Homo sapiens: one gene and its partners. The protein of the gene in region 1 purifies or fractionates together with the protein of each later gene. This does not show direct contact. Each region holds a gene or a part of one and is shown in the gene's direction. Other genes may lie near its edges.

What was found.
Region 2: the proteins of AKAP1 (region 1) and MFN2 purify together in Homo sapiens (affinity purification with mass spectrometry; one large-scale study listed by BioGRID and IntAct). This does not show direct contact.
Region 3: the proteins of AKAP1 (region 1) and HELZ purify together in Homo sapiens (affinity purification with mass spectrometry; one large-scale study listed by BioGRID and IntAct). This does not show direct contact.
Region 4: the proteins of AKAP1 (region 1) and ABCD1 purify together in Homo sapiens (affinity purification with mass spectrometry; one large-scale study listed by BioGRID and IntAct). This does not show direct contact.
Region 5: the proteins of AKAP1 (region 1) and MYO19 purify together in Homo sapiens (affinity purification with mass spectrometry; one large-scale study listed by BioGRID and IntAct). This does not show direct contact.
Region 6: the proteins of AKAP1 (region 1) and NAA20 purify together in Homo sapiens (affinity purification with mass spectrometry; one large-scale study listed by BioGRID and IntAct). This does not show direct contact.
Region 7: the proteins of AKAP1 (region 1) and TRABD purify together in Homo sapiens (affinity purification with mass spectrometry; one large-scale study listed by BioGRID and IntAct). This does not show direct contact.

What each region holds. Positions count from the first base shown.
Region 1 is NC_000017.11:57,101,709-57,105,957, forward strand, and holds part of AKAP1 (A-kinase anchor protein 1, mitochondrial precursor), read left to right. Parts: intron 1-3,732; 5' UTR 3,733-3,756; coding exon 3,757-4,249.
Region 2 is NC_000001.11:11,986,688-11,990,936, forward strand, and holds part of MFN2 (mitofusin-2), read left to right. Parts: intron 1-2,477; 5' UTR 2,478-2,481; coding exon 2,482-2,656; intron 2,657-4,249. UniProt on the Homo sapiens protein: Mitochondrial outer membrane GTPase that mediates mitochondrial clustering and fusion. Mitochondria are highly dynamic organelles, and their morphology is determined by the equilibrium between mitochondrial fusion and fission events.
Region 3 is NC_000017.11:67,101,913-67,106,161, reverse strand, and holds part of HELZ (probable helicase with zinc finger domain), read left to right. Parts: intron 1-4,249. UniProt on the Homo sapiens protein: May act as a helicase that plays a role in RNA metabolism in multiple tissues and organs within the developing embryo.
Region 4 is NC_000023.11:153,737,784-153,742,032, forward strand, and holds part of ABCD1 (ATP-binding cassette sub-family D member 1), read left to right. Parts: exon of another isoform or gene 1-795; intron 796-2,308; coding exon 2,309-2,454; intron 2,455-2,790; coding exon 2,791-2,936; intron 2,937-4,249. UniProt on the Homo sapiens protein: ATP-dependent transporter of the ATP-binding cassette (ABC) family involved in the transport of very long chain fatty acid (VLCFA)-CoA from the cytosol to the peroxisome lumen.
Region 5 is NC_000017.11:36,503,232-36,507,480, reverse strand, and holds part of MYO19 (unconventional myosin-XIX), read left to right. Parts: coding exon 1-82; coding exon of another isoform or gene 83-90; intron 91-341; coding exon 342-518; intron 519-872; coding exon 873-1,025; intron 1,026-2,076; coding exon 2,077-2,184; intron 2,185-3,460; coding exon 3,461-3,531; intron 3,532-4,249. UniProt on the Homo sapiens protein: Actin-based motor molecule with ATPase activity that localizes to the mitochondrion outer membrane. Motor protein that moves towards the plus-end of actin filaments. Required for mitochondrial inheritance during mitosis.
Region 6 is NC_000020.11:20,023,596-20,027,844, forward strand, and holds part of NAA20 (N-alpha-acetyltransferase 20), read left to right. Parts: intron 1-2,081; coding exon 2,082-2,172; intron 2,173-3,188; coding exon 3,189-3,324; intron 3,325-4,249. UniProt on the Homo sapiens protein: Catalytic subunit of the NatB complex which catalyzes acetylation of the N-terminal methionine residues of peptides beginning with Met-Asp, Met-Glu, Met-Asn and Met-Gln. Proteins with cell cycle functions are overrepresented in the pool of NatB substrates.
Region 7 is NC_000022.11:50,191,845-50,196,093, forward strand, and holds part of TRABD (traB domain-containing protein), read left to right. Parts: intron 1-1,182; 5' UTR 1,183-1,216; coding exon 1,217-1,249; intron 1,250-1,731; coding exon 1,732-1,810; intron 1,811-2,495; coding exon 2,496-2,662; intron 2,663-3,055; coding exon 3,056-3,196; intron 3,197-4,249.

The sequences.
Region 1 (4,249 bases):
AAGTAAGACTCTTTATCTGTAGGTAAGAAATCCCAAGGAAATCTACTAAATGGTTAGAATTAGTGAGTTCAGCAAGTTTGCAGGATACAAGATCAGTGTGTAGAAACTTCCCCTCTCCTACAACTGAATGGCTTGTTGTGTGTCCTTCCCAGTTTTTCCATGGGATTATGTGAACATAGACATTCCATACACATGGTGGTCTGTACCTTTTTGTTTTACGTATCCAGGTGATTTTTTCCATGTCGGCACATGAGATCAACTTCTTTCGGTAACATCGGTATGTCAGTGGATTCCATAATCTACCTAGCAGTGATTCCCCTGAAATGTTTGTTAATCCCAATTTTGTTTCAAATGATGCCTCAGCCTGTGCAGAGGTACGTGGGTTAAAAACATTTTGAAAAAAAATTTTTTAAGGGACTAGTCTCACTGTGTTGCCCAGGCTGGTGGCAACTCCTGGACTTCAGCGATCCTCCTGTCTCTGCCTCTTTAAGTAGCTGGGATCACAGGTGCTTGGCTTTGTGGATTTTTCTTTGTTGTGGTTTTGTTTTTGTTTTTTTAATTTAAAGATGCCAAGTGTGGGATTTCAGAGTTGTAGGATGTGGTTATGAGCTTTTAAGAGCTATCATAAGGCTCTCCGGAAAGGTAGTACAGACTTCCCCTTTTCTTGGCTCATATAGCGCCTCTTCCCCACAGTTCTAGAATAATGGGTTCCAGATTTAATGTGGGAGAGAATTTAGGTACCCATCCCTTGGCTGTATGCCTTGAGCTTTTTTTTTTTTTTGAGTCTCGCTCTGTCACCCAGACTGGAGTGCAGTGGCACTATCTTGGCTCACTGCAACCTCTGCCTCCCGGGTTCAAGTGATTCTCCCGCTCAGCCTCCCGAGTAGCTGGGAGTACAGGCTCCCGCCACAACTCCCGGCTCTCTCTCTTTTTTTTTTGTATTTTTAGTAGAAACAGGGTTTAACATGTTAACCAGGATGGTCTCAATCTCCTGACCTCGTGATCCACCCGCCTCAGCCTCTGAAAGTGCTAGGATTATAGGTGTGAGCCACCGCACCCAGCCTCCTTGAGCTATTTTAACCTTCAAGATAGTAATTCATTTGGCTGGGCACCGTGGCCTGTCATCCCAGCACTTTGGGAGGCCGGCTGGCGGATCACCTGAGGTCTCGAGTTCCAGTCTAGCCAACATGGCGAAACCCCGTCTCTACCAAAAATACAAAAATTAGCCAAGTGTGGTGGTGGGCGCCTGTAGACCCAGCTACTCTGGAGGCTGAGACAGGAGAACTGCATGAACCTGGAGGCAGAGGTTGTAATGAGCCGAGATCACACCACTGCACTCCAGCCTGGACGACAGCGAGATAAAAGGAAAACAATCTAGCAAGGTTCTGTGTTTGAATGTGAAGCAAAACGGTAGCACTAAATTTCTTCCCTGAGGAATTGATGTAAAGCCTTAGCCCTGGCCACTGCCTAGCCCTGCATTGTGCTTCAAATGCTATCATTGCTGCTGCTTCAAATATCAGCAAGAAAGTTTATCTTTAAAGATATAGGGACTTTCAAATGGAGGTGACCTTCTCACTACCACTGCCCCCACTTCATCACTTCAGGGGCAGAACACACCTCTTAGCATTCCTTCACAAACTGTAAGGTCCTTCTCAATCCCCTAGGGATCTTGTTAAAATGCAAGTCTGAGGTGAGACTGGGATACTGCATTTCTAGCAAGGTCCTAGGCAATATTCAGGACTTCTGGTACATGGATCGCACTTTCAGAAGCAGAGTCCTAGAGTAGTGGTTCCCAGCCTTGGCTGGAAAGTAGAACCTCTCAGGGAACTTTTAAAAGTACTGATGTTCTGGTTCTGCCAGAAAACAATATAAGTCAAACCAATATGAGTTGTTAAAACATGTGCATTTGTTATCTCTAAAAGAAAACAAACCCAAATAAGGTGTAATTCAGCTTGTCAGTTGAAGGATTTTTGGTTTTAAAAAGACATTACTTTGGCAGAGAGATTTAAAGTTTGCTGGCATAGGAAGCATTGAATGTAAGTGTTCTAGAATAAGCCCATCATATACCTTTAGTGAGTGTTAACTGCTTTGCAAAGAACTTTCTATATCTCAGCTAATCCTTATACCAACCATCCATTAAGAGATGTGTCCCCATCTTACAGATGAGGAAAAATTGAGTTTTCTATCCCCTTTACATGTCTGTTGCCTTCTTCTAGGCCCTTACTATTCCTCCTTGCTTAGACCTAACTGACTTAGGTTTCTAGGTTCCTTCTGCTCGATATACTTCACTTTTCTTTTTTGAGATGGAGTCTTGATCTCGGCTCACTGCAACCTCCACCCCCCTGGATTCAAGCAATTCTCCTGCCTCAGCCTCCTGAGTAGCTGGGATTACAGGCGCCTGCCACCATGCCCAGCTAATTTTTGTATTTTTAGTAGAGACAGGGTTTCACCGTGTTGCCCAGGCTAGTCTCAAACTTCTGACCTTAGGTGATCTGCCGAGCTCTGCTTCCCAAAGTGCTGGGATTTCAGGCTTCAGGCATGAGCCACTGCGCCCAGCCTCGATTCACTTTTCATCCTGTTCCCAGAATTGCCTTCTAGAAACAATTTGATGTGTGTGCCTTGCAGACCTATGCTGGTTCTCTGTTGTCTGCAGGATAAAGTCCAGACTACGCAGTGGGGCCCTAGGACACCCTCACTGACCCCACGATGGTACAGATGCTCCTCAGCTTACAATGGAGTTACATCCTGGTAGACCCATTGTAAGCTGAAAATAGCATAAATCGAAAATAAATACATCTAATGCACCTAACCTACTGAACACCATAGTTTAGCCTAGGCTACTTTACATGAGCTGAGAAGACTCACAGTCGTCTACAGTGGGGCAAAATCACCTAGCAACACGATCCACTCTGGAGTGCCCGTTGTTCACCCTTGTGATAGAGTGGATGACTGGGAGCTAGCATTGCGAGAGAGTAGCGCATCACCTATTGGTAGTCCAGGGAAAGATCAGAATCCAAAATTGGAAGTATAGTTTCCACTGAATGGGTATTGTTTCCCACCATTGTAAAGTTGAAAAATTCTCAGTTGAGCCTTGGAAGATCAGGGAGCGCCTGTATTTGAATCTTCCAAGTCTGACCTGGACCTTCATGCTGCAGTTTGCTGTGTTGGTCCCTCACCCTGGAGCATCTCCTTAGCCATTGGGAATTTTATTCCTCCTTCATTCTCACTGTCTCTAATTGCTGAGTAACAAAGTTCCATTTCATTGACTCATGATTTTATGGGTAGATGTGAGGGAACCATGCACATGTGGATTCCATGGGGGTTTGAAATGCTCTGATGCCACTTGATAGAAAAAAATGTTCTGTGAGTTTAGAGAACTGAGCCACACTGAGCAGAGCTAGCCCCTTTTTGGGGAACATAGAGAGAATTTGGCATCATGAAGTGATGAAGGGAGGGATTTGGGTTAAAGAATAGAATGCTCGGTTTGTTTCAAGAGGGTGCGTGAGTTGGGGAGCATGGAGGGGAAGATGCCTCTTCCTGGCCACTGACCCCCAGTGGATCACACAGAGGGTGGACTGGTACGAGCTGAGAGGTGTGCTCCTCTTGGAGGGCAGGGAAGGCGGAGGAGATGGCTCCAGCTCTACCCTGTTGACTGTCTTGCATGTGCGGTTGCCAGTATCCTCCTACCTGGCTCTGTAACATCCCTCCTCCCCGCTCTCCTGCTCTCCCCAGGTGTAATTACTTCAAGCCTCCAGGATGGCAATCCAGTTCCGTTCGCTCTTCCCCTTGGCATTGCCTGGGATGCTGGCGCTCCTCGGCTGGTGGTGGTTTTTCTCTCGTAAAAAAGGCCATGTCAGCAGCCATGATGAGCAGCAGGTGGAGGCTGGTGCTGTGCAGCTGAGGGCTGACCCTGCCATCAAGGAACCTCTCCCCGTGGAAGACGTCTGTCCCAAAGTAGTGTCCACACCCCCCAGTGTCACAGAGCCTCCAGAAAAGGAACTGTCCACCGTGAGCAAGCTGCCTGCAGAGCCCCCAGCATTGCTCCAGACACACCCACCTTGCCGAAGATCAGAGTCCTCGGGCATTCTTCCTAACACCACAGACATGAGATTGCGACCAGGAACACGCAGAGATGACAGTACAAAGCTGGAGCTAGCCCTGACAGGTGGTGAAGCCAAATCGATTCCTCTAGAGTGCCCCCTTTCATCCCCAAAGGGTGTACTATTCTCCAGCAAATCAGCTGAGGTGT
Region 2 (4,249 bases), on another chromosome or scaffold:
TCAAGCAATTCTCGTGCCTCAGCCTCCCGAGTAGCTGGGATTACAGGTGCCTGCCACCATGCCTGGCTAATTTTTGTATTTTTAGCAGAGAAGGGGTTTCACCATGTTGGCCAGGCTGGTCTCAAGTGATCCACCCGCCTGGGCCTCCCAAAGTGCAGGGATTATAGGTGTGAGCCACCATGCCCAGCCTCTTTTGACCTTTGACCAAAGACCTCTAGGACTTTGGAGTCAAGTCTCATGACCTCTAAAATGTTGTTATATGAAAAGATAAGCTACAAAGATATGTAGGATTGAGTGAGAGCAAGAGAGACAGTCACACAAAAATAGACTGTGATAATATGGCTGGGTACGGTGGCTCACGCCTGTATTCCCAGCACTTCGGGAGGCCGAAGCAGATGGATCACTTGAGGTCAGGAGTTTGAGACCAGCCTGGCCAACATGGTGAAGCCCTGTCTACGAAAAATAAAAAAATTAGCTGGGTGTGGTGGTACATGCCCGTACTCCAAGCTACTCAGGAGGCTGAGTGAGGCAGGAGGATCGCTTGAACCTGGGAGGTGGAGGTTGTAGTGAGCTGAGATTGCACCACTGCACCCAGCCTGGGTGACAAAAGTGAGACTCTGTCTCAAAAAAAAAAAAAAAATTATAATAAACAAAATGTTGGGCCGGGCGTGGTGGCTCATGCCTGTAATCCCAGCACTTTCGGAGGACAAGGTGGGTGGATCATTTGAGGTCAGGAGTTCAAGACCTACCTGGCCAACATGGTGAAACCCCACCTCTACTGAAAATACAAAAATTAGCCGGGCATGGTGGCGAGTGCCTGTAGTCCCAGTTGCTTGGGAGGCTGAGGCAGGAGAATAGCTTGAACTCGGGAGGTGGTGGTTGCAGTGAGCCGAGATCATGCCACAGCACTCCAGCCTGAGCGATAGAGCAAGACTCTGTCTCAGAAAAAAAAAAAAAAAATGTTGGCTGGGCATGGTGGCTCACGCCTTTAATCCCAGCACTTTAATCCCAACACTTTGGGAATCCAAAGTGAGAGGATCATTGGAGCCCAAGAGTTTGGGAGCAGCCTGGGCAACATAAGAAGACCCTGTCTCTACAAAAAATTTTAAAAAAATTAGTGGGGCGTGGTGGTGCATGCCTGTGGTCTCATGTACTCAGGAGGCTGAGGTGGGAGGATTGCTTGGACCCAAGAGGTTGAGGCTGCAGTGAGCTGTGATTGCGCCACTGCACTCCAGCCCAGGTAACAGCGAGATCTTGTCTCAAAATAAAAAATAAATAAGTAAATAAAATGTTAACATTGCTTATCACAAAATGATGGGGTTATGGGTTTTTTTCCCCTTCAGTTTCCAAATTTTCTGTAGCACACCTGTGCTATACTAAAATAGACCAATAGTTTTTGTGTGTGTGTGTGTGTGTGTGTGTTTTTCTTTGTTGAGACTTGGTCTGGCTCTGTCACCCAGGCTGGAGTACAGTGGTGCGATCTCGGCTCACTGCAACCTCCGCCTCCCAGGTTCAAGCAATTCTCTGCCTCAGCCTCCCAAGTAGCTGGGATTATAGGCGGCCACCACCACACCCGGCTATATTTTTTTGTATTTTTAGTAGAGACGGGGTTTCATCATGTTGGCCAGGCTGGTCTTGAACTCCTGACCTTGTGATCCACTTGCCTCAGCCTCCCAGAGTGCTGGGATTACAGGCATAACCCACCATGCCTGGCTGTTTTTTTTTTTTTTTTTAAATAGAGACGGGGTCCTACATTGCCTAGGCTTGTCTCGAACTCCAAAGTTCAAGTGATCTGCCTGCCTTGGCCTCTCAAAGTGCTGGGATTATAGGTATGAGCCACTGAACCTGGCCCCTAACCAATAGTGTTTTTATGTGGTCTTGCTCTGTCTCCCAGGCTAGAGTGCAGTGGACTGATCATAGGTCACTGCAGCCGAAACTCCTGGGCTCAAGTGACCCTCCCACCTCAGACTCCCAAGTAGCTAGGACTGCAGATGCATGCCACTGTGTCATGCTAATTTTGTTTTATTTTTTGAGACAAAATCTCGCCCTGTCACCCAGGCTGGAGTACAATGGCATGATCTTGGTTCATTGCAGCCTCCATCTCCCAGGTTCAAGTGATTCTCCTGTCTCAGCCTCCCAAGTAGCTGGGATTACAGGTGTGTGCCATTGGGTCTGGCTAATTACTGTATTTTTAGTAGAGACGGGGGTTTCACCATGTTGGCCAGGCTGGTCTTGAACTCCTGACCTCAGGTGATCCACCTGCCTCAACCTCCCAAAGTTCTGAGATTACAGGGGTGAGCCACCGCGCCCAGCCTGAGACACTGTTCTTATCTCACCGTCCTTTGTTCTAGTCCTGGAGGTTGCAGTGACCTGAGATCCCCATATTCTTGATTCTCCCCAAAGCATTCCGCCATCTCCCTAGCAGGATGTCCCGAGGTAGGTGTTGCTGGGTTCGCTCACGTTAGCTTCTCTTGCAGCGCAATGTCCCTGCTCTTCTCTCGATGCAACTCTATCGTCACAGTCAAGAAAAATAAGAGACACATGGCTGAGGTGAATGCATCCCCACTTAAGCACTTTGTCACTGCCAAGAAGAAGATCAATGGCATTTTTGAGCAGCTGGGGGCCTACATCCAGGAGAGCGCCACCTTCCTTGAAGGTAAGGGGGCACCGGCTCAGCCAGGCCCGCTCTTACCTGTTTAGATATTTAGCTAGTGGGATTTGCGGGTGGGGAGGTATATCTCTGCTCCCAGGGAAGTCATAACCAGATAGCCTTAGAAATGCTCTGCTCTTGAAATCATGTGGAATTGGAGTCTGGGGAGATGAGGCCAGGAAGACAAGGGAACTGCCATTTAGTAATTACTTTAAGAAGTCCACATGTTTTGTTTCATTTAATCATGAAAGATAGGTGAATCTTATCCCCATCTACAAGGCAAGCAAATTGAGGTTTGAGAGTTGTCCGATACCTTGTAAGTAATAGATCAGGGTTTTACCCAGGTGTCTCCAACTCCGGAGCCCACGTGTTTTCCTTTGCCTAGTTCTGGCTGCCATTAATACCAGGCACTGTTTGGGTGTCAGTGATCCCTGACCAGGGCGCCCTTTCTTTGATATTTTTAGATTGGTGACAGAACTATAGGAAACTCACGTCACCTATGCCTTTTCTACTAGTTACTAATTTGAGCCCAACCTCTAGTTCCTTGTCTATCAGCAGAGAAGGACTGGTTCCCAGGGCCCCGCTCGTCTGAGTGTCAACTCCAGCACTGGCTTCCTCAGGCTCCCTCTTTAGAAGGACACTTTGGCGCCAGGTCCTGAGATTGTCTGTGGAGACCCAGTAACTGAGTCTTATCTGCCCTTGGTTTCCTCACTTGTGAAAGTGGGGCTCAGGTGTGAACAGTGGTTTCAGATTCTAGTCTGCAGAACCCTAGAAGTTCAGTGGTGGTGCTTCGGGGGTTGGCCCCTGGCTCAGGGGGGCCACCTTCTTTCCATTCTGCTTTCAAATAGAGCAGCTTGGCTTCTCGTTGTTTTACATGCCAGGCTGCTACACGAGGCTCCCTTTGAAGAAAGAGACTGTCCAACTTCATGCCCTCATCTGTGCCCTGCCCTTTGCGTGGCGCTTGATGCCACAGAAGGTGTTTCCTAAATACTTGTTGAACTAAAACAAATCTGAATTTTAAAGTAGTATGATTGGTAGTTGAAATAATCCCAACTCATTGCCTGTTTATCAGTGGCTATGGTGTGCCAGCCGTGTGCCAGGTGCTGGGCATGCAGAGATGGGGTAGATCAGGCCGCTCCCCTCTGGGAGCCCAGACTAACCCTCTTGGAAGCTCTGAGTCACCTACTCAGATGATGTGGTGGACAAACACATGCGTAATGCAGGTGTTTATGTGATGCATGCTTTGATTTCTCTGTGTGTGAAAATATGAGGCCTCCCCTGTTGTTTAAATGGAAGGGAAAGAGCTGGAGTGATCCTGAGCTGTGCTGGGTCAGGGAAAGAATGGTTCCTGCCTGGGCACTGTTTCTAACGGGCAGGTAACAAGAGCTTGTTGGCCTGCTGGCTCTCGCTTTTAAGTGTAGTCACATGCTTGAGAGCCAGCTTCCTCCGAGGGACATTCCAAAGGCCATGCCCAGGTGCCCATATAAGGGAGGAATATTGATGCATCTGGGGCAGAGGTGACCGGTGGACATAGCGGGAGGGGAGATGGGGGTGTTGTTGACTTGGTCATTTCCTTTCATGGCGCTGGCTGTGGGGGAA
Region 3 (4,249 bases), about 10 Mb from region 1:
TGCAGTGATTAAAGATAAAAATGTGTAAAGCCGGTTGTAGTCATATCAGACAGAGACATCTTAAATCAGGATAAAGATTTCTAATTTTGATATATGAAAAATACTTTTTTGATATTAGCTTCATTTTGGCAGTTTCAGAATGATATCTAAAGGCCATTAGAAATAATTGATTCACATTTTACAAGTTGCCTGCTATAGATGCTAATTAAAAGTCAAGATTCATAGGGAAAGCTGTATGTCTTATTTGTAGGGATTTAGAGGCAGTCTGTTCAAATTGTCCCAGTATTCATTGATTGGCTCATTCTGTATAGCTGTCATTAAAACAACTTACTGTGATTTTAGGCTCTTAAAGTAAGTTAGAAGCACAATAAAGATGAATTGGTATCTACATATATGTATTGTGAGGATCTAGAATTTTGGAACCATACTTTACAAAAATTTGGCACACATCTGACAGTCTTTCAGATTATAATGAACAGTAGTTTTACAACTGATCAGTAATGTAATTTTCAGTTAAGTGATGTTTTAGCTATTTATAATAAAATTCACATAAAAGTCACCATTTTAGCCATTTTAAATTGTACAATTTGGTGGATTTTAGTGTATTCACAATGTTATACAGTCATCACTACTGTCTAATTCCAGAACATTTCATCACCCATAAAAGAAACCCCATAACTGTTAAGCAATTACACCCCAATTTCCCCACTCTCAGATTAGTAACCACTAATCTACTTTCTGTGTCTATGGAGACATTTCATAAAAATTGAGTCATACATTATGTGGCCTTTTATATCTGGCTTTTGAAGTGCATCCACACTGTAACTTAGGAGTGGAGTTCTTGGGTGATGTAGTAAGTCTATGTTTAACTTTTTGAGGAACTGCAAACTGTGTTCTCTGCACATTTATATTCCCACAGCTATGTATGAGGATTCCAATTTCTCTATATACTCGCTTTGTAAAAAAAATTATAACCATCCTAATGGGTGTGTAGTAGGATCTCATTGTAGTGTTGTTTGTTTGTTTTTTGACACGGAGTCGCACTCAGTCGCCCAGGCTGGAGCGCAGTGGCATGATCTTGGCTCACTGCAACCTCTGCCTTCTAGGTTCAAGCAATTCTCTTGCCTCAGGCTCCTGAGTAGCTGGGACTACAGGCGCCCACCACCACACCCAGCTAATTTTGTTGTTGTTGTTGTTGTATTTTTAGTAGAGACGGGGTTTCACGATATTGGCCAGGCTGGTCTCAAACTCCTGACCTCAGGTGATCCGCCCCCAGCCTCCCAAAGTGCTGGGATTACAGGCGTAAGCCACCGCGCCCAGCCCTCACTGTAGTTTTGATTTGCATTTCCCTATTTACTGATGATGTTGACATCTTTGCATGTGCTTCTTGGTCATTTGTATCTTTTTTGGAGAAATGTCTATTCATATGCTTCAGCCATTTAAAAAAATGGTTATTTTTTTGTTACTTAGTTATAAGAGGTTTTTTTTAATGTATTCTGGTACAGACTCTTAATCTCATATATGATTTGCAATTATTTCTCTCACTGTGTGGGTTGTCTTTTCACTTTCTTGATAGTGTCCTTTGATGCTAAACTACAATTTATCTATTTTTTTCTTTGGCTGCTTATGCTTTTGGTGTCATATCCAAGAAACCCTGGCCTAATCCAAGATGGCAAAGATGTACTTTTACATTTCCTTTTTATAGTTGTTTGTTTTTTTTTTTGAAATGGCGTCTCGCTCTGTTGCACAGGCTGGAGTGCAGTGGCGCCATCTCGGCTCACTGCAAGCTCCGCCTCCCGGGTTCACGCCATTCTGCTGCCTCACCCTCCGGAATAGCTGGAACTACAGGTGTCCACCACCACACCCGGCTAATTTTTTTTGTATTTTTTTTAGTAGATACGGGGTTTCACCATGTTAGCCAGGATAGTCTCAATCTCCTGACCTCGTGATCTGCTCGCCTCGGCCTCCCAAAGTGCTGGGATTACAGGCTTGAGCCACCGCACCCGGCCCCTTTTTATAGTTTTATAGTTTTACCTCTTACACTTGGTTCTTAGTTCTTTGGTCCATTTTGAGTTAATTTTTGTATATTGTGTGAGGTGGGTATCAAATTCATTCTTTTGCATGTGGCCATACAGTTTTCTCAGCACCGCTTTTGAAAAGACTCCTTTCCCCCATTGAATAGTCTTGGCAACATTGTCAAAAATCAGTTGACTGTAGATGCTGGGTTTATTTGTGGATTCTCCATTGTATTTCATTTATCTGTGTGTCTGTCTTTCTGCCAGTACCACACTGTATTGTACACTGTAGTATTGTAGTAAGTTTTGGAATTGGAAGTATGAGTCCTTATATTTTGTTCTTTTGGAAGATTGTTTTGGCTATTCTGGGTTCCTTGAATTTTCTCATGTGAGGTTTAGGATCAGCTTACTAATTTCTTCAGAAAAAAAGCCAGCTGACATTTAAAAAAAGAATTGCTTTAAATCTCTAGATTAATTTGGGGAGTATTGCAACCTTAACAATATTAAGTCTTCGAGTACCTGAACATGGACATCTTTCTATTTGTTCAGGACGCTTAACATTTCTTTCAACAGTATTTTGTAATTTTCCAAGTATAAGTCTTGCACTTCTTTTGTTAAATTTATTCCTAAGCATTTTATTCTTTCTCATGCTATCATAAATGGAATTGTTTTCTTAATTTCATTTTTTGATTGTTCATTGCTAGTGTTTAACCACATGATGATATATTGATTGTGTATCTGCAATCTTGCTGAACTCTATTAACAGATTTTTTTGTAGATATCTTAGGCTTTTTTATATGGAAGATAATGTCATCTACAAATAAAAATAGTTTCATTCTTCCTTTCCAATCTGAATGCCTTTTATTTCTTTTTCTTGCTTAATTCTTGATTGTTTTTCTGGTTGCCACAAGCTTTTAATTAGGTTTCTAGGTTCCCAAAAAATGGATTATGACAGCTTTTGCCAATTTTTTTCTGTTTTTATGGAGGGATGGACTTTGGAGTTTCTCACTCTGCCATTTTTGCTGATATCACTTATGATGTTTTTATTTAACCTGCCAAATGAGTTCATGATATGAGGGGGAACTGTGTGCCAAAGTTTTTATAGGTTTTATGAAGTTTTGTACTTTACTAAATAATACTTCATATTGAATAATCTACTTTAGTCATTGATCTTTTTAAATGGGCCTTAATTTTGGAATTTAAGCTTTTTGTACCTTGGTGCTCTTAATGTCTGATATTTCTGTTATCTTTGTTTGTGTGTGAATAAGTACCTTTCATTGTCAGTGGGTTCTTAGAGTGAAATTTACTTTTGCAAAAACATTTGGTCAGTTTTATTTTGTTGCATGAGATTCACAAATGAGTGATTTACTGACAACACTGAAAAATTTATTTGACAAAGATAATATTTTTTTAGCACATTGCAGATTTTCACATTTTCAGTGTATTAGGGTAACTTTAGTCTGTTCAAAATGCTTTTGCATGAATCATCTCACAAAGTGAATGATTGATGTGCTTGCTGTTTATTTCCAACCTTTTAAAATAATTTCTTTAACGTTAACAACAAAGAAAAGGCTTTTCCCTCCCACTATGGATCCTTTTATTCCCAGAAAACTTAGTAGATTAATCTTGTGGGATGATATCTGGATGTTAGTGTAACAGTTCATTTAAATGGAAATGGTTGGTTACATTATGTTTCACTTGTTTTTTCTTTTTATAGTAATTTTGATTTTCTTGTGACAAATGAAATACATGGCCAGCACAGAAAATGTAGAAGTTAGAGAAATTATTTATAATTTAACTAGACAAAGATACCTACTATAACATTTAGCCTTTCCTAGCATTTATAGATGTGAATGTATGATCCATTAATGGAGGGAGATTATTTGTTGGGAAAACTTGAAACAATTTCTCTCTGCCCTTCCCCCAATTGCTATGCCCACCTATATCACCACTGAATGGGATCTTGGTCCCATTCTGTAACATTTTTTGCTACTTTCAATTTTTAGACTATTCTCATGTAGATAATTAGGCTTAACTCCATGGATTTTCCTTCCCCACCTCAAACGCAGCAAAAGCCATGGCCCTTGGCTGCTTGGCTAAGGCTGGACATTGTGGTCTGGCAGTACTGCCTGCATCCTTTCCCACTTCCGGTCCTTACAGGTGTGATGGGATGAGGAGGACAACAAAGGGCAAAGTGCCATCTTCTCCTGAGCCAGGCAGTAGACCATCCCCAA
Region 4 (4,249 bases), on another chromosome or scaffold:
GCACTCAGGGAGTCTTCACTGTGGAGGGGCACTAAAGTGTTACAAAGGGTCTCCAGGTAGACAGCTGTTCAAGGGACAGTGGGGGTCACAAGAAGAGTGGTCAGAGTCCCTGGGGGTGGTGGGGGTGGGATGAAGCCTTGCCCAGGAGTTGCTGTGAGCGAGTGGGCAGGCAGCTGAGGGTAGAGGAGTGAGGGGCCGTGGGCCTGAGGGGCAGGTCACGCAGGAGGAAGCAGAGAGGAGGGGCATGCCAGGGAGGAGGGGGCCGGCACAGGTGGTTACCCCTCACCGCTCGCAGCGGCCCCTCCTAGGATGTCGGGGGAGCTGATCACCAGTGAGTCCAAGGAAGGTGGTTTCCAGGCTGGCCCCGGGCAGCACAAGCAGGCAGGGGCAGCGGGCAAGCTCATGGGGCCCCTGCGCGCAGGGCCACATATGCTCAGGGAGCCGGGTATGCGAGATGGGGCAAGGCCCAGGCCCCACCCTTCAGGAGGGGACAGTCAGGTGGCTTCATTAGCATCCTGTGGCTGCGGTCACAAAGCGTTACAAACTTTGAGTGGCTTTCCCAGCAGAGATGGCCTCTCTCCCGGCTCGGGGAATAGCAGTCCGAGAGGAAGGCGCAGGCAGGGCGGGCTTCTGCCAAGGACCGAGAAGGTGCCTCCGCTCGGGGCCTCTGTCCCAGCTTCTGCTCTGCTGCCCATCTGCGGGCTTCCCTGGCTTCTGCCACGGCAGGTCGGCCTCAGCCTCTGTCTCCACACGGCGCTCTCCCTCTGGGTGTGTCCGTGTCTCCGTCTCCCCTTTCTGTCAGGACACAGGTCACACTGCATTAGGGCCCACCCCTCTGCAGAATGACCTCATGCAGACCTAACTCATCACGTCCGCAATGACCCTGTTTCCAAATAAGCTCACACTCCGAGGTAGTGGGGATTAGGGTTCCCACATAGGAATTTCAGAGGACAGAGTTCCACCCATGACACTGCCTGAGGTAAGCTAAAGACCACGGCCTCAAGTCTTCCCAGGAGCCCCGTGTAGCATTGTTGTTGTTACCGTGAACTTCACTGACTCCAGGCCCCTGGCCTCCTCCCTGCACACAGCCCGCCTCCAGCCTGGCCGGCATTTTCCCAAAGTAGGCATTTCCTAGCTCCAGCGAGGACCATGGAGTCAGTGAATTGAGGAGCCTGAGGTCCATGATGCAGAGCCCAGGGGCCACTGTGGCATCTCTGGGCCACTCTGGCACCTGGGGAGGCAGTGGGGTCTGTACTGTCAGTCTAGAGACATAAAGAAAGTGCTTTTTGGGCCGGGCGTGGTCGCTCATGCCTGTCATCCCAGCACTTTGGGAGGCCGAGGTGGGCAGATCGCTTAAGCCCAGGAGTTCAAGACCAGCCTGGGCAACATGGCAAACCCCGTCTCTACAGAAATTTTTAAAAATACACAAATAAGCCAAGTGTGGTGGCGGTGCCTGTAGTTCTAGCCACTTGAAAAAAAAGGCTAAAGTGAGAGGGTCTCTTGAGCCCAGGAGGTTGAGCCTGCAGTGAGCCATGATCCCACCACTGCACTCCAGCCTGGGCAACAGAGCAAGGCCCCGTCTCAAAAAGAAAAGAAAGAAACTGCCTTTTGTCCCCAGTGACTCAGGAGGCCAAGGTGAGAGAGTCGCTTGAGGCCAAGAGTTTGAGACCAGCCTGAGTAACATAGCAAGACCCTGTCTCTAAAACAACATTTAAAAATTAGCCAGGCATGGTGGCGTGCATCTGTAGGCCCAGCTACTCAGGAGGCTGAGGTGGGAGGATCACTTGAGCCCAGGAGTTGGAGACTGCGGTGAGCTGTGATCATACCGCTGCACTCCAGCCTGGGCAACAGAGTGAGGTCTCGTCTCTTGAAAACAAAGTGCCTTTCAGGGCAGTTCCTTAAAGGGGGCTGACAGTTGACCCTGCACTTGGATTCCTGGTGAAGTGGGAGTCGGATGGGACTGAGGACGGCGCTGGCTGTGTTGGAACACACCTACTCATTCAGCTGTGGCAGAATAGGCCCTTCCTCTTGTGCTGGCACCATGTTCTCCAGGCGTGTCAGGGCCTGAGGACTGGGCCGGGGCTTGTCCATTCCTGTGTCCTGGGCCAGGCATTTAGCGAGAGCCAAATTTAGCTAGGGCTGTGGACGCTGGACCCCATCCCCCAGGCCCTGCTGTCCCTTATCAAGAGATCAAGAATGGCCTGCGTGCTGGCCTCGGGCATTGGGAGCCTCTCAAGGCTGGTCAGGAGGCCATAGGGTACGGGAAGGGGCCTGCGCTCTCTGGCGTCAGCGGCTGTTGCCCCTGCAGGTGGAGGAAGGCATGCATCTGCTCATCACAGGCCCCAATGGCTGCGGCAAGAGCTCCCTGTTCCGGATCCTGGGTGGGCTCTGGCCCACGTACGGTGGTGTGCTCTACAAGCCCCCACCCCAGCGCATGTTCTACATCCCGCAGAGGTAAGGAAGCCCGTGCGCCTCTCCTCCACCTCTTCCTGCCTGTGCGCTCACACATGGCTTCCTGCAGAGGCCCAGGAAGTGGTGAAGAGTCAGCACCTCAGGAGAGGACACTGAGGCACTGTCCCCAGAGCCAGAGACGGGCTGTGGTTCCTGCTCCCTCCAAACCCGCCCGATCCACTGCCCTGTTTTGGATCTGTGTGGGGTGTGTGCACGGGCGGCGATGTGAGCGTGTGGATGCGTGTGAGCGTGGCATGTGGACACTGCCTGGGAGGCGCAGAGTATCTTGGGGGAGGCAGAGCCGGCCCTTCCCTCCGTGGACACCCAGCTTTCCCACAGGCCCTACATGTCTGTGGGCTCCCTGCGTGACCAGGTGATCTACCCGGACTCAGTGGAGGACATGCAAAGGAAGGGCTACTCGGAGCAGGACCTGGAAGCCATCCTGGACGTCGTGCACCTGCACCACATCCTGCAGCGGGAGGGAGGTAGGAGGCCTGGGGCTGGCAGCCACCCTTTGTCCCACCCTGGCCTCTCCCTTGGCCTCCAGGGAGTGAAGATTACCTCAACATCCAGAGTCTAAAGTGCCAGGTGCCACGGGGCGGGGCAGAGGCTGCTACCAGGGAGGACCAACACCACACAGATGGCCCCAGGTGCTCTAGGGAAGGGGGCACCTAGCAGGGATGTGCACCTCACTGGGGGACCCAGGATACCCTCTCCCAGAGAAAAGAGGTCTGAGCTGAGCCCTGCAGAATGCTGAGTGGTTACCCCGTCCGGAAGCCAGGGGCAGCAGGGCGGAGTGCGTTCCGAAGGCTTGGTGGTGCGAGAGGCTGGCTCACAGAGGGCCCTCGGGACCAGGCGGGAGCCTAGGCTTTCCCTGAGCAGGATCAGACGCTCTTGGAAGGACCATGGGGTGGTGGGCAGGGGCAGCCTGGGAGGGGCAGGCACATGTGTGCAGTGATGGCTACTGTCAAGAGGTTTGTGCAGACGCTTGGAGGGGGCTGGGGCCAGCAGAGTCAGGTGGATTCAGAGATGAGTTCACTGAAAAGGAGGCCAGACTGAGCTGTTGTCTTGTCCTGGGCTTATCAAGGAATACTGCTTGTCCACAGTGTCTGTCGGGCCGGAAGAGCGGAGGAGGAGAGGGGGCTGCAGCTACAGGGACACAGTAGATGGAGTGTTCAGTTCTGTCTTTGAATTCTGAGCCTCTGGGTTCTGCTTCCAGCCTGCACTGCTGGGTGCGAGATGGCCCTGGGCAAGGACCTCGCCTTGCTGGGGCTCCCCTTCACGGTTCAAGGGCACGGGCACCAAGCCCTCCCTCGGTGGCAACATGAGAAGAAGTGGCTCCTGCAGGAAATGGCCGGGGTGTTGTCACCTGCCTGTGGAGGAAGCGGGGACACAGGTGGCAATGGCAGTGGAGCAGCCCCTGGCCCGGCCCTGCCTCTTGCTCCTGCTGCCCTCAGCCTGGGAGCACGTGGCCCCTCCCGCCTCTGTGGCAGCCTGAATGCCCAGGGCCTGTGGCCGGCCAGCATGAGCCATTAGGATGGAGTTGAGCTGCGAGGAACAGAACGGGCCTCCCCGCAATAGTGGCTAAGATCATCTGTGAGTTTATCCTACTGAGCTGTTAGGTCCCAAGAGAGCCAGGCCACGGTTGCCAGGGCTGGCCCTGCTCTGTGAAGGCCCCAGGGCTCGAGGATTTTCTACCAGGTCACTCTGCTGTGTTTGGCCTCCGTTCCCAAAGTCACCTCATGATCCAGGAGGGCTGCTGCAGCCCTCACATCATGTCCCAGGCTGTAGGATGGAG
Region 5 (4,249 bases), about 21 Mb from region 1:
ATTCATCAACTACCAGGACAACCAGCCCTGTTTGGATCTCATTGAGGGAAGCCCCATCAGCATCTGCTCCCTCATAAATGAGGTGGGGAGGTCAGCTAATGAGCCGAGCACCAGAGTTGGCCTTTGGGTTTTCTGGGGCCTTGATGATTATCCTGTTTCCTCTCTGTGCCTCTCTCCTCCCAGTCTGCCAAATAGATCTGCTAATTGCTATATTTTTTCTGTTGGGGACACTATGATGCCTGTGTGATGTCTGCTGTCATGGGGTCCACAGGGTGGGGACAGTGAGGGTTGTGGTGAGACACTCTCATGTTGGTGGCTGACCCCCTGTTCCCATCCCACAGGAATGCCGCCTCAATCGACCCAGCAGCGCAGCCCAGCTCCAGACACGCATTGAGACTGCCCTGGCAGGCAGCCCCTGCCTGGGCCACAATAAGCTCAGCCGGGAGCCCAGCTTCATTGTGGTGCATTATGCGGGGCCTGTGCGGTACCACACAGCAGGCCTGGTGGAGAAGAACAAGGTACGGGCTGGGCCATGCCCTGTGGGGCCTGCGAGAAACGAGATGCTGGGTCTTTGCTATGCAGACATAGTAGTTTCCCATCGTGAGTCCTTTCTCTCCTGAACCTCCTCCCAGAATCCAGAATCACCATCTTGGGCCCACCTGTCTGAGGTCTCCACTAATCAAGCATGACCTGCCTGGAGATAACCCATGTTAGACTGGGTCTCCAGGTCTCTGGTTGTCCAATGGACCTTCTCTTGGACTCAGGCCCTGTCCTACCTGGAAGCCCCGTCATCTGCGGCTTGGGTGGGCAGTGGATGGCCCTGAGCAGAAGCTCCACCTGCCCTCACTGCTGCTCTTGCCATTTCCCAATAGGACCCTATCCCACCTGAGCTGACCAGGCTCCTGCAGCAATCCCAGGACCCCCTGCTCATGGGGCTGTTTCCTACTAACCCCAAAGAGAAGACCCAGGAGGAACCCCCTGGCCAGAGCAGGGCCCCTGTGTTGACCGTGGTGTCCAAGTTCAAGGTGGGTCTGATGTGCTGATGGGAGGTGCTTGGTTCAAACTCCACGGTCTCACAAATATTTATTGAGCACCTGCCGGGATCGGTGCTGTTTGTTGGGGAGCAGTGGCAAGTCAAGTAGATGTGGTCCCAGTCCCCTGGAGTTTATACTTCAGTGTGGAAGACAGAAACAGTAGACAAATAGGCTATCAGGTATAATATGATGGGAAGTCTAGGGGCCTATGGGGGCACTATGCAGCCTCTCACCCCCTGCCACTGGGGTGCTCATGGGAAGAGGATCAGCTACATGAGCTTCTTTGACCTGGCTCATCTCCAGCTGTCTAGCTTCCTGTTCTAACCCTACCCTCACTCACTTCTCTCACATCGTCTGCTTTCTACCACCTCTCAGTCCTTGCATGTACCGCCCCACCTTCCTGGGATACTCTTGACTACTGCCCCATCAGCTCCACCTCACTCCCATCCTCCACGCCCCTTTTCCTAGTTTAGTCCTTCTCATCCTTCAGACTTTAGCTTTATCACCACCACCTCGAGGAGGCACCTGGAAAACCAGGTTTGATTAGCACCTTCCTACCCAGCCTCAAACACACCCCCGAGGGTGTTCATCCAACATGTGTGGCCCATTGGAGTGAGCTCTGACATGGCAGCAGGCAGCCTGTGGCACAGCCTCCAACACACAGGATGAGCTGAGTGATAACAGTTGTTGCTGGACGAATGGCAAGAAGTTTTGAGATTGTTCTTTTCTAAGAAGATTGCTCTGGGGAGAAGTGGGGAGGGGAAAGAGGAGGAGATTGGATTCAGGGAGAACAGTCAGGGAGGATCACAGGTTTAGAAGGGTCCCTTAAGACAGAGGTGAGGAGCATGGGAAGTTGGGAGAGGAATGTGCTCTGAGCCTGCTCGTTGAGAGCCTGCAGCAGTCATCCCTGCACAGGAGATTCTTGGTCTCAGGATCATGGAAGGGCCCGCTGGAGGCATTTGATGTAGTTACTAACCAGAGCCCAGTTGATGGCCCTGGGCAGCCCCTCTCCCTGCCTAACCCCATGGTCTCTCATCTGCAGGCCTCACTGGAGCAGCTTCTGCAGGTCCTACACAGCACCACGCCCCACTACATTCGCTGCATCAAGCCCAACAGCCAGGGCCAGGCGCAGACCTTTCTCCAAGAGGAGGTAATTAACACCGGGCCAAAGCTGCTTCGCACCAAACCCCATCTGGCCAAGGCCCTGGAGAGATGAAGGGCAGGACATCTGTTCCAAATGGAGTGCACAGAAGTGGTCTCTCCGGCCAGGCCTGACATGAGAGAGGACCCATCTCCCTTGCTGTGGCAGGGCAGGCATGTATGGTTGTGTGGTCTGTGCATAGTAGCCTAGCCAGGGAGGCAAGTTCCAGTGCATCTTGTTTTTTTGAGCCATGTACCCTGATGAGAGACTGAAACTGCCCAGAGGAATGGGTGTCTCGTGATTAGCTGAAAGTCTACATCACCACACAGTCCCCGCACAGTGCAGCCATTTCTCACTGGAGGTATCATTTTTTTCTTTTTTTTTTTTTTTTTTGAGACTGAGCCTCACTCTGTCACCCAGGCTGGAGTGCAGTGGTGCAATCTCAGCTCACTGCAACTTCCGCCTCCCGAGTTCAAGTGATTCTCCTGCCTCAGTCTCCCAAATAGCTGGAATTACAGGTATGCACCACCACACCTGGCTAATTTTTGTATTTTTAGTAGAGATGGAGTTTCACCATGTTAGCCAGGCTGGTCTCAAACTCCTGACCTCAGGTGATCTGCCCACCTCAGCCTCCCAAAGTGCTGGGATTACAGGCATGAGCAGCCACTGCACTCAGCCGGTATCATTTTTTTCTAATCTAACAAAAGCACTCTAGCCAGCAGCTGCCCTTTTCTTGGGATTCCAGGTTCTGAGGGATGTGGATGAGGGGTGAATGCTGGGCACTGCTGAAGGTGTGGCCTGGTAGATGTGGCCTTCCGGTTTGTAGCCAGGACAACTCAGCTCTGTGGTAAAGACCTGGGTTCAGGTCACAGAAGAATCTTCATAGTATAATCTTCCCTGCCTCTCAGCTGTGAACCACCCTCTAATGCCTGCAGACAGTGAAAACAATCCAAACTGGAAATTTGCCTGGGCTGGGTTGTGTGGTAGTGAGACTACACTGAGGGCAGGGTGAGACGGAGCCAGGACATCACTTGCTTCAGCTGTATCAGAAGCCATGCGTCGGATGAGGGGGACTTGGGACCACCAGGACCCTTTCTAGTGGGAGATTTGTTTTCAAGGTCCCTCGATTTCTCACAGCCCCAAGGAGATACCCCCATTAGCCAAGCCTTGGGAGAGCCTGCAGCTTGGCACTGGCCAGGGTCTAAGAAGAAGGGCTGAGAGAATGGCATTTCTGGCCTGCTGGCCCCATGCTGCAGGTGCCTGCCCTGTCTCCCCACCCTTGCAGGTCCTGAGCCAGCTGGAGGCCTGTGGCCTCGTGGAGACCATCCATATCAGTGCTGCTGGCTTCCCCATCCGGTGAGTGGGCTCGATCACGGCACAGTGCAGGGCCAGTACAGAGTGGGGCTCAGGACTCTCATTGGGCAAGAGCCTGCCCAACCCAGAGTGAGATGTGGAAATGAAGAGAAAGAGGCTGGTCTGTAGAAGTCAGCTGGGAACTAGGGAGCAGCACCCATTCGTTCATCCATTCACTTATTGTGCACTATTTTGTACCCAGCTGATGGCTGTGACAAAAGCCACACTGGTACAATGTTGGGGACAGAAGCCAGACTCAGGAGGGCTGACAAGCAATTGGGAGGAAGTGCAGATATCAGGTGCCAGCAGCTGTCTGAGAAGTGTTGCCTTGATGAGGAGCAGGGAGATCTGGGGGAGGCAGAGGAGACTGTGGGGTCAGAGAGGTCAGAGGGGAGATGTGGCCAAGCATGTCTGCGTCATAGGACTGGTCCAATTGTTTGGGGAGAGGCCTGTCAGCCCCTTTGGAGGGAGGCAGCCCGCAAATCCCCTGCTAACACAAGAGATGCTTTGTGTTGGTAGACCAAGGCAGCAGGGAGAGCAGACCCATTTTAAATAGTCTTTATGGGTTTCCAACTAAGTGATCCTAGAAATCGCTTCAAAACCACATTCACATTCAGTGGGGATACTCGGGGAGGGCAGCACCGTGCTGTGTTGTTGAGCAGATTAAATAGAATAACTTCTGATGAGCCCTGAACCGTTAACCTGGCTCACAGATGAAGTA
Region 6 (4,249 bases), on another chromosome or scaffold:
CAACACAAAGTTCGGATTCTGTGTTATGCTCTGTATCTACTGTAGGTGGGTAGGAGGGTTCTGCTAACCGGTAATTTATCAAAAGAGGGCATATAGGAGCTTAATGAACGTGTTAAGAGTTCAGTCTCATCAGTCAAAAGACATGTAAACTAAAACCAAAATGAGATGCCATATTTTATGTATCAGCCAAGATTTTAAAAAATGATAAACCTCAGTGCTGATGATGGTGAGGTGAGAGGAACATTCTCATAAATTGCTAGTGACAATATAAATTGCTATTATCTTTCCAGAAGGCACTTTGGAAATAGTAATTCCATTTCCTGAAAGCTGAAAATAAGAAGAAATAGAGGCAGTTTGTCAGTGGTTGACAAAATAAGGCCCATAGGCCAAATCTGGCCCACTGCCTGTTTTTGTAAATAAAATGTTATTGGGACACCACGCTGATTAATTTATATTTTTTTCTGTGGCTTTTGCAGTTTGAGTAGTTCAGCAGGGACTGTATGGCCCACAAAGCCTAGGATGTTAACTATTTGGCCTTTTACAGAAAAAGTTTGCTAACCCCTGAGTTATACCATTACAAACATTATTTATTGCAGGAGAGTTACTAAGCATTTGGAATAAGATTCACACACAACAATCAGGAGATGGTTAAGTAAATTAAGCTGTACTGAAGAAGGATTTCAAACATTTTTTTGAGAAACAGGAAATGACCCAGGTGTCCATTGTCAGGATACAGGCTATTTAAGGTGTCTCTTCACATAAAGAAATACTATACAGCAGTAAAAATTAACTTACAGGTGCAGGCAGCAACAGGACTACATATCAGAAACAAAACTGAATGGGAAAAGCAAAAAATCTCTGCAGGTTCATCTGGATTTTTTAAATTACGACTAATGATATCACCACTTTTAAGATTTTTGAAGAATTTTGAATGACAAAAGTTTCACTATATAGGAAGGAAGGATTTTAGGATGCAAATCCGTTTATATGGTGTGCTTCCAGTGACATTTAAAATTTGCAGTGAAAGTCCCATAATCCAGGTGAGCCTATATTTGAAAGTAACCTGTTAGGTCCTAGAGGTCGATGGGAGGGAGGGGTGTCTGGGACTCCTCTGTTAGCCACAGAAGAGATGGTTGTGGTATATGTCAGTGGCTGGCTGGCAGGAAGACTGGCTGTCCTGCCATGTTAAGGGTTGTATTTGAGGGGTATTCAAAATAATGATGGTCCTTCAGAGGAGATTTTGAAGAATTTCGCACGGAACAGGTTTTCCAGGAACTTAAAAAATATATTTATGTGTGATTGATGGTGTCCTCTGATAAATTGCATCAGAAAGTTTATACTAACAAGAAATATATTTTCATCCATTAAAGTACAGAGTAAAAAGAAGAAGAGAAATGTAGGAATGATTACATGTCAGTAAGGATATCCCAAGGTTGAAGAGTGAAGTCATGAGCAAATTATTCAGGCATTTACTGTTAACATAGTTGATTCCTTAAGTCAGCTTTTATCTGCATTACTAGAAATGCAGGATTTGAATCAGTGGAGAGGAAAAACTGGGTAATTAAGTTGGCTCTGGAAGGACTTAGGTTGTAAAGTTATTTTCACAGTCTCATAGCTGAAGTCAAAGTAGGAACTACCCATTAATTTTTCAGTGCAATTATGTAAGCATCAGTGTATTAAGCATCTACTGTGTACCAGGCACCAGGGACAGAGGGAACATGATATTCATAGACTAAGAGGAGGCAGACCGCAAACAAACAATATCAGGTGATAAATGGAGAGACTTAGATATGGTATGGTCAGTAGGGAAGTAGACTGTAGAACTTTGGGGTCCTGATTCTCTGCTTTCTATTAGACAGTGCTATCACCATTCCACACTTGAGGCTATATGTCCAGGCAATTTTGTTAAAAATCAGTGATAACCTAAATATTTCATGTAATGGTATGTATGATTATAGGACTCATACAGAGCTGGGGATAAAGTAACAGTATACTTTTTAAAGGAAACTTTTTTTACAATATCCCTTAATGAAGAACTTTTTACTGTCCATTACTTTTCACACTCCTTAACAGGACTCTAGTATGGGATTCCTTTCTACCTACAATACCTCGCCCACTGGCCAGAGTATTTCATTGTTGCAGAGGCACCTGGTGGAGAATTAATGGGTTATAGTAAGTATAATACCACTAGTATTTTGTGGAGTAGGTAAAGATTTTAATATAGATTTCAACTGATTGCTTTAGACTGCAGAATTGGAATATAATGATGCTTGTAATTTTATTTCCTCTTCAACAATTCAAGAACTTACTGATCTCTGTTTTGGGCACTGTGCTAGGCCCAGGCGATAACGGCAGTGAACCAGACAGACATGGTCTTAGTCTTCTTAAATCTTTCATTCTAAAAAAAAAAAAAATCTTTCATTCTAAGGCCAGGTACAGTGGCTCACGCCTGTAATCCCAACACTTTGGAAGGCCAAGGCAGGCAGATCCTTTGAGGTCAGGAGTTCAAGATCGGCCTGGCCAAATGGTGAAAGCCTGCCTCTACTAAAAATACAAAAAATTAGCTGGGCGTGGTATCGCGTGCCTATAATCCCAGCTACTCAGGAAGCTGAGGCGGGAGAATCACTTGAACCCCGGAGGCAGAACTTGCAGTGGGCTGAGATCATGCCACTGCACTCCAGCCTGGGTGACACAGTGAGACTCTGTCTCAAAAAAAAAAAAAAAATCTTTCATTCTATACTTTTGTTAAATTTCTACATGGTTTATTTAGTACATAATGCAGGCATCATAGCATCCTCATTGAATTAGCATTACTAACAGAACCTTTAGCTCTGAACTATATGTGTACATCCACATGTACCCACATATACCCACACCCATATGAAATGCAGATATTTGAAAAAATACATACTCTGGTTTTTTTTTTTTCAAAATTAGTTGTGTTTTAAGTATATCGTTCTTTTTTGTTCTAATTCTGATTTTAGAACTATTCTAAATGTAACAGATAGTGTTACATTTACAAGTGAATTTCAAATAAAAGCACTAACTGTTAGCTGGATGACCTCAGGTGGTACTTAAAAACTTCTTTATTAGTTTCCTTTGTAATAAAAACATACTGAACAGTAATTCTATATTTATGTGTAAATCAATGTCTAGTTACTGAATGTGATTTTTGTTGTTGTTGGCAGTTATGGGTAAAGCAGAAGGCTCAGTAGCTAGGGAAGAATGGCACGGGCACGTCACAGCTCTGTCTGTTGCCCCAGAATTTCGACGCCTTGGTTTGGCTGCTAAACTTATGGAGTTACTAGAGGAGATTTCAGAAAGGTGAGATTCAGTTTTTCAAATACACTTAGTGATTTGTGGACCCCTAACCATTTTCTTCCCCTTCAGGCTGAATAACTGTCATGCTTTACAGTTCACAGGAATTTCATCTTCCATCTCCAGTAGTCCTTAGAACAATTCTATCACATAGTCAAAGTGATATTGTTTCTATTTTGCCATTGAGGAAATTAAGGCAAAGTGTTGTAGTGACCCGCTATAGGCCTATAAGCTGAGGAATTGGTGCAATTCAGTTCCAAAGGCTAGCTCTCGAGGTTTCTCTTAGTGTTCCTGCCACAGTGGCACACATTCCTAAAATCTGTTACCATTGCTTTGGCATCTGAATAAATTTTTAGCAGTGCTCCTCGGCCAAAAGAAAATAGTTCAGTCTTAAGCAGTTATATTCTAACTGTTTAATAAGTATTTATAGCCTAACAGCTAATAGCCATTTAGAAAAAAAATAAATTGAAAGAAGAAATATTTTCATTTCATTCTTAAATAACTGTGGCTAGCTACCAATGAGAGGTGTGCACCTGTTGGACATTAAATGACTTGGCAGAACCACTTGCATTCCTGTTTCATATTGATTTTCATCTAGTATTTTTTTTTAATCACAGCAACTGCCAGAAACTCAGCTTCATAGAAATATTATGTCATTAAGAGGAATGTAGCATGATCTTACGTTGAATTTGTGAACTACTTCAAACTAGTTTGCCAATATCTGACATGTAAGGTTTTGCTGTTTTCCCTGAACATTCGAAATATCCTTTGGTGGCTGTATGAGTTTGGGACACCTTAGGGCACCTGAGTGCACAGTTTGCGAACTGCCAGCATGGCATTTTTTTTTTTTTTTTTAAGGGACGTGTTGTATATATCAAACCTCTTCATTACTGGAGATAAAAGAAATACAATAAATAGAAGAGAAGGCCCC
Region 7 (4,249 bases), on another chromosome or scaffold:
GGGTTCAAAGTGATTCTCCTGCCTCAGCCTCCCCAGTAGCTGGGATTACGGGTGTGCACCACCACGCCTGGCTAATTTGTGTATTTTTGGTAGAGATGGGGTTTCACCAGGATGGTCTATGTTGGCCAGGCTGGTCTCGAACTCCTGAGCTCAGGCAGTCCATCCACCTTGGCCCCCCAAAGTGCTGGGATTACAGGTGTGAGCCACCGCGCCTGGCCTGTTTGGGATATTTTAATGATTCTGCCTGGTGACACATCCATCCGCCAGGACATGCATGAGCCATTAACTTGGTAAACAGTCACTCCTGGCATTCCGTGGCTGAGAACATTCAGGAAGAGCCACATGGTGCAGCAGGGCCTGTGGCCAGTCTCAGGACAGCCTGCTGGTCCCTGGCCCCGCCTCGAGGGGCTCCGCGCAGGTCTCGCCGATGCTCTGTGGGTCTTGGCCGGTGCGTGCCTCTGGTGCTGCAGGCGCCTGGCTGTTTTCTTCCTTCCCTCAGGCTCCTGGGCCCCCGGCCTGAGCTCCTGGTTTCTGAGAGTCTGTGGGGAGCTGTGATGCCTCGGGGCAGCCCCCTCGTGTGGCTGCCCCAGCCTGTCCGGGTTTCTACCGTGGTTCCTTCCACACCATGTTTGTCTCTTAAAGTGGGAGAGAAGGTCTTAGGTCCAAACACGTTGATTTGTGTGCTTTGTGGATTCCTCCGTCTGTACTGACTCTGTGCCGGTGTTGTTGCCCAGGCTGTAGTTACTGAAAGGGGAAGTGGCTTTTGTACAAAGGCCCTGGGGTCCTTGCCATGTGTCAGCAGCTGCGTTGCTGTGTCCTGAGATCATGTGTGGACCCCAGGGCTGCCTTCCTATGTGTGCCCGCCGTGCCGCAGTGAGGGTTGGGCAGCTCTGGCCCTGTTCTGAGTGAGGCCTGTGCACCAGCAACCCGCCCTGGGCCCGTCTGCGTTTGGTTTATGCTGGGGTGTCTGGGGACCTGCTGGCCTTTCCCCACCCGGGCCTGACCTGAACCGACCCTGGACCTCAGCAGCCTTTGATGGGCAGGAGGCATTTGGGGATATGGGGGAAGGAGCCCCCAGGCCCACCCAACAGATGGTTCTAGACTGACAGGGCACTACGCAGTGAGTCCTGAGCCAGGTCTGGGGCTCCAGGTGGAAACCCCGCCTCTCATGCCTCTCCTCAGGCTCCCCACAGGTGCAGGAAGCCGCCGCCCAGCCATGGACGGGGAGGAGCAGCAGCCACCGCACGAGGTGAGGTGGAGGCTGGGCTGGCTGCACAGAGACAGGGGCGGGGGGCTTCCCCGCTTTGTGGGCTCTCGGGGTCGGTCCCTGGCTGTTGTTCTGCAAAGGTGATCTTCACAGGGTTCTCCAGGGTCAGGCAGGAGGCACCTCCGAGGGAGAGGGGCGCTGGGCTGAGGTGGCCTGGTGGCCCTGTCTGCCCAGCTTGATGGCAGCCGTGCCAGTGATGGCCAAGCAGGAGGGGTACTGACAGTGTGGGGCCTAGGCTCTACGGAGGCCCTGCTTTTCAGGGTGTGTGGTACACAGAGCGGCCACGGGTCCCTTTCCCGGGTACGTGGTCCGTGGAGCGGTCACGGGCCCTCGTTTTTCAGGGTGTGTGGTCCACACAGCGGCCACGGGTCCCTTTCCAGGGTACGTGGTCCGTGGAGTTGCCACGGAGCCCTGGCTTTCTGGGGTGCATGGACCCTGACTTGAACTCTCCTTTCCACCTGCAGGCCAACGTGGAACCTGTTGTGCCGTCAGAGGCTTCAGAGCCGGTGCCCAGGGTGCTTTCTGGAGACCCCCAGAACCTGTGTACGTGTCCCTCAGGGTCCTGGCACGTTCCCCGGTGTTGGGCTGTTGAGTCAGGGAGGAGGGGGAGGCAGCCAACCACTGCCAGGGGCTTGGAGCTTGTGGTGAGCAGGGGCCCTGGCCGAGACCTGAGGTAGGTGCTGCTAGGCCTGGTGCCACCCAACAGCAGCTGCTCCTGGGCCCTGCCTGGCAGTGGAGCCTCTTGGAGGGGCTGCAAGCAGCACAGGCAGGCCCCTGGGCATGGGGGGCTCGTGAGCACAAGCAGTGTGAGCGGCACGGGAGTCCCTCCTTGCTGTGGCCTCAGCCTGTCCCTCCTGAGTGGGGTGGGGGGGCCCATTTCGCCTCAGAGCCCCTCCCCTAGCTGAGCCCCCTGCGGCACCTGCCCCCACTGTCCCCCACACCGAACCTCATCCACAGCAACCCCCAAGGTCGCCCTCATGGGGTGTATGGGGCACAGGACTCCTGAGGCCCTGGCTTCTCGAAGCCGTGCAGCTCACAGAGGTGGTAGCCGGTGTTCCCATCACTGGGCAGGCAAAGCCTGTGGAGTGTGACGCTCGTCAGGAGTCTTGTGCTCTGCACCTGTTCAGTTCTCAGAACCCAGGAGGGTTCTAGAGCCCAGGCTGCCAGCGGGCCCGGCGGCGTCCTTGGGGTGGGCCCGGCACCACAACGGCCTGTGCTGCTGTTGCAGCCGACGTGGACGCCTTCAACCTGCTCCTGGAGATGAAGCTGAAGCGGCGGCGTCAGCGGCCCAACCTGCCGCGCACTGTGACCCAGTTGGTGGCTGAGGACGGGAGCAGGGTGTACGTGGTGGGGACAGCCCACTTCAGCGACGACAGCAAGAGGGACGTTGTGAAGGTGAGCGCCGCCACCCGCCACATCCCGGACACGGGTTGGTGTAAGCTCCTGTGTCCTGCACTCAGGGACCTCCCGGCAGGGCCCGTGTGCCCGTGTGTGCGCACCGCAGGCCTCCTGCTTCAACACTGTGGTCCCTGGGAGTGGCAAGGTGGGCTTCCTGCCTGGGAGCCGTGACGGCCTTGTGCGTTTTCCCACTTAACAAGTGAACAAGCCTCACAGCTTCCTCTCTCGTCGCTTAGAGAATTGAGCTGTCACTGCAGCAGCGGGGTTAGCTAGCCCTGGGGTGACGCCAAGGCTGGCTGCTCCTGGGATGGGGCCCCTGGTGCTGGCGTCAGCTGTGCTGAGGGGCAGGGAGCGGCTGTGTTCTCGAGGTGTGACCTGTGGCTGTTGCAGACCATCCGGGAGGTGCAGCCTGACGTGGTGGTCGTGGAGCTCTGCCAATATCGTGTGTCCATGCTGAAGATGGACGAGAGCACGCTGCTGCGGGAGGCCCAGGAGCTCAGCCTGGAGAAGCTGCAGCAGGCCGTGAGGCAGGTGCGCAGCCGCGGGCAAGGGTCAGGGTCAGGGTCGGGGTCAAAGCCACCTGTTTGCCTGTTGCCCAGGTTCCTCTCACAGCCCATGCCCCCAGTCAGTGTGGCTGTGCCTGGCCTGCCCTGGGGATTGCCGGGTTAGGGACCTCCCCTGGGCCAGGAGAAATGAAAGAGGCTCCATTACCCGGTTTCAGGCAAGGGAGGAGGAAATGGGTGGCTCTCCAAGCTGAGGCAGGGGCTGGTCACCCGAGGACTGGGTTGCTGAGCAGTTGCTGGGGATGGGTCAGGTCTCAGTGCAAGGTTGGCCCCCCCGGTACCACACCCAGGCCCAAAGTGGGTGGGGCTCAGGGCTCCTCCTGTCCCCACTTCTCCAGCCTTGCAGTGACCGGAGAGGCAGGACTTTCTCATTGCTCTTTGTGTTTTCGGTTTTTGTTTTTTTTTTTTGAGACAGAGTCTCGCTCTGTTGCCCAGGCTGGAGTGCAGTGGTGCGATCTTGGCTCACTGCAACCTTCGCCTCCTGGGTTCTAGTGATGCTCCCGCCTCAGCCTCCTGAGTAGCTGGGATTACAGGTGCCTGCCACCACACCTGGCTAATTTTTTGTATTTTTAGTAGAGACGGGGTTTCACCATGTTGCCCAGGTTCATCTCAAACTCCTGAGCTCAGGCAATCCACCCACCTCAGCCTCCCAAAGTGCTGGGAATACAGGCATGAGCCACCGCGCCCGGCCAGGCTTTGTGTTTTCAAAGGGGGCCCAGCACGCCTGACCCCAGCCCTGGTCAGTTTGCCTTCCCCCTGTTCAAAGGAAACAATTATAATGAGATCTTATAGAAATGTCCCTAAACGTTTGGCGCCTGCCTTTCATTTTTTAATTTCTCCAGATGAGGCAAGTCACCAAAGAAGACCTCTGTGGGCCGTCTTCTAAAGGGCAGTCCCCGGTCCAGCCAGGGCCCAGCACTGGGCAGCCTCCCCACCAGAGCCTGGGGCCCAGTGATCTCGAAGGGGCATAGAATTCGGCAGTGCCGTGCTGCTCACTGCTGCGGTGTCACAGAGGGAAGGG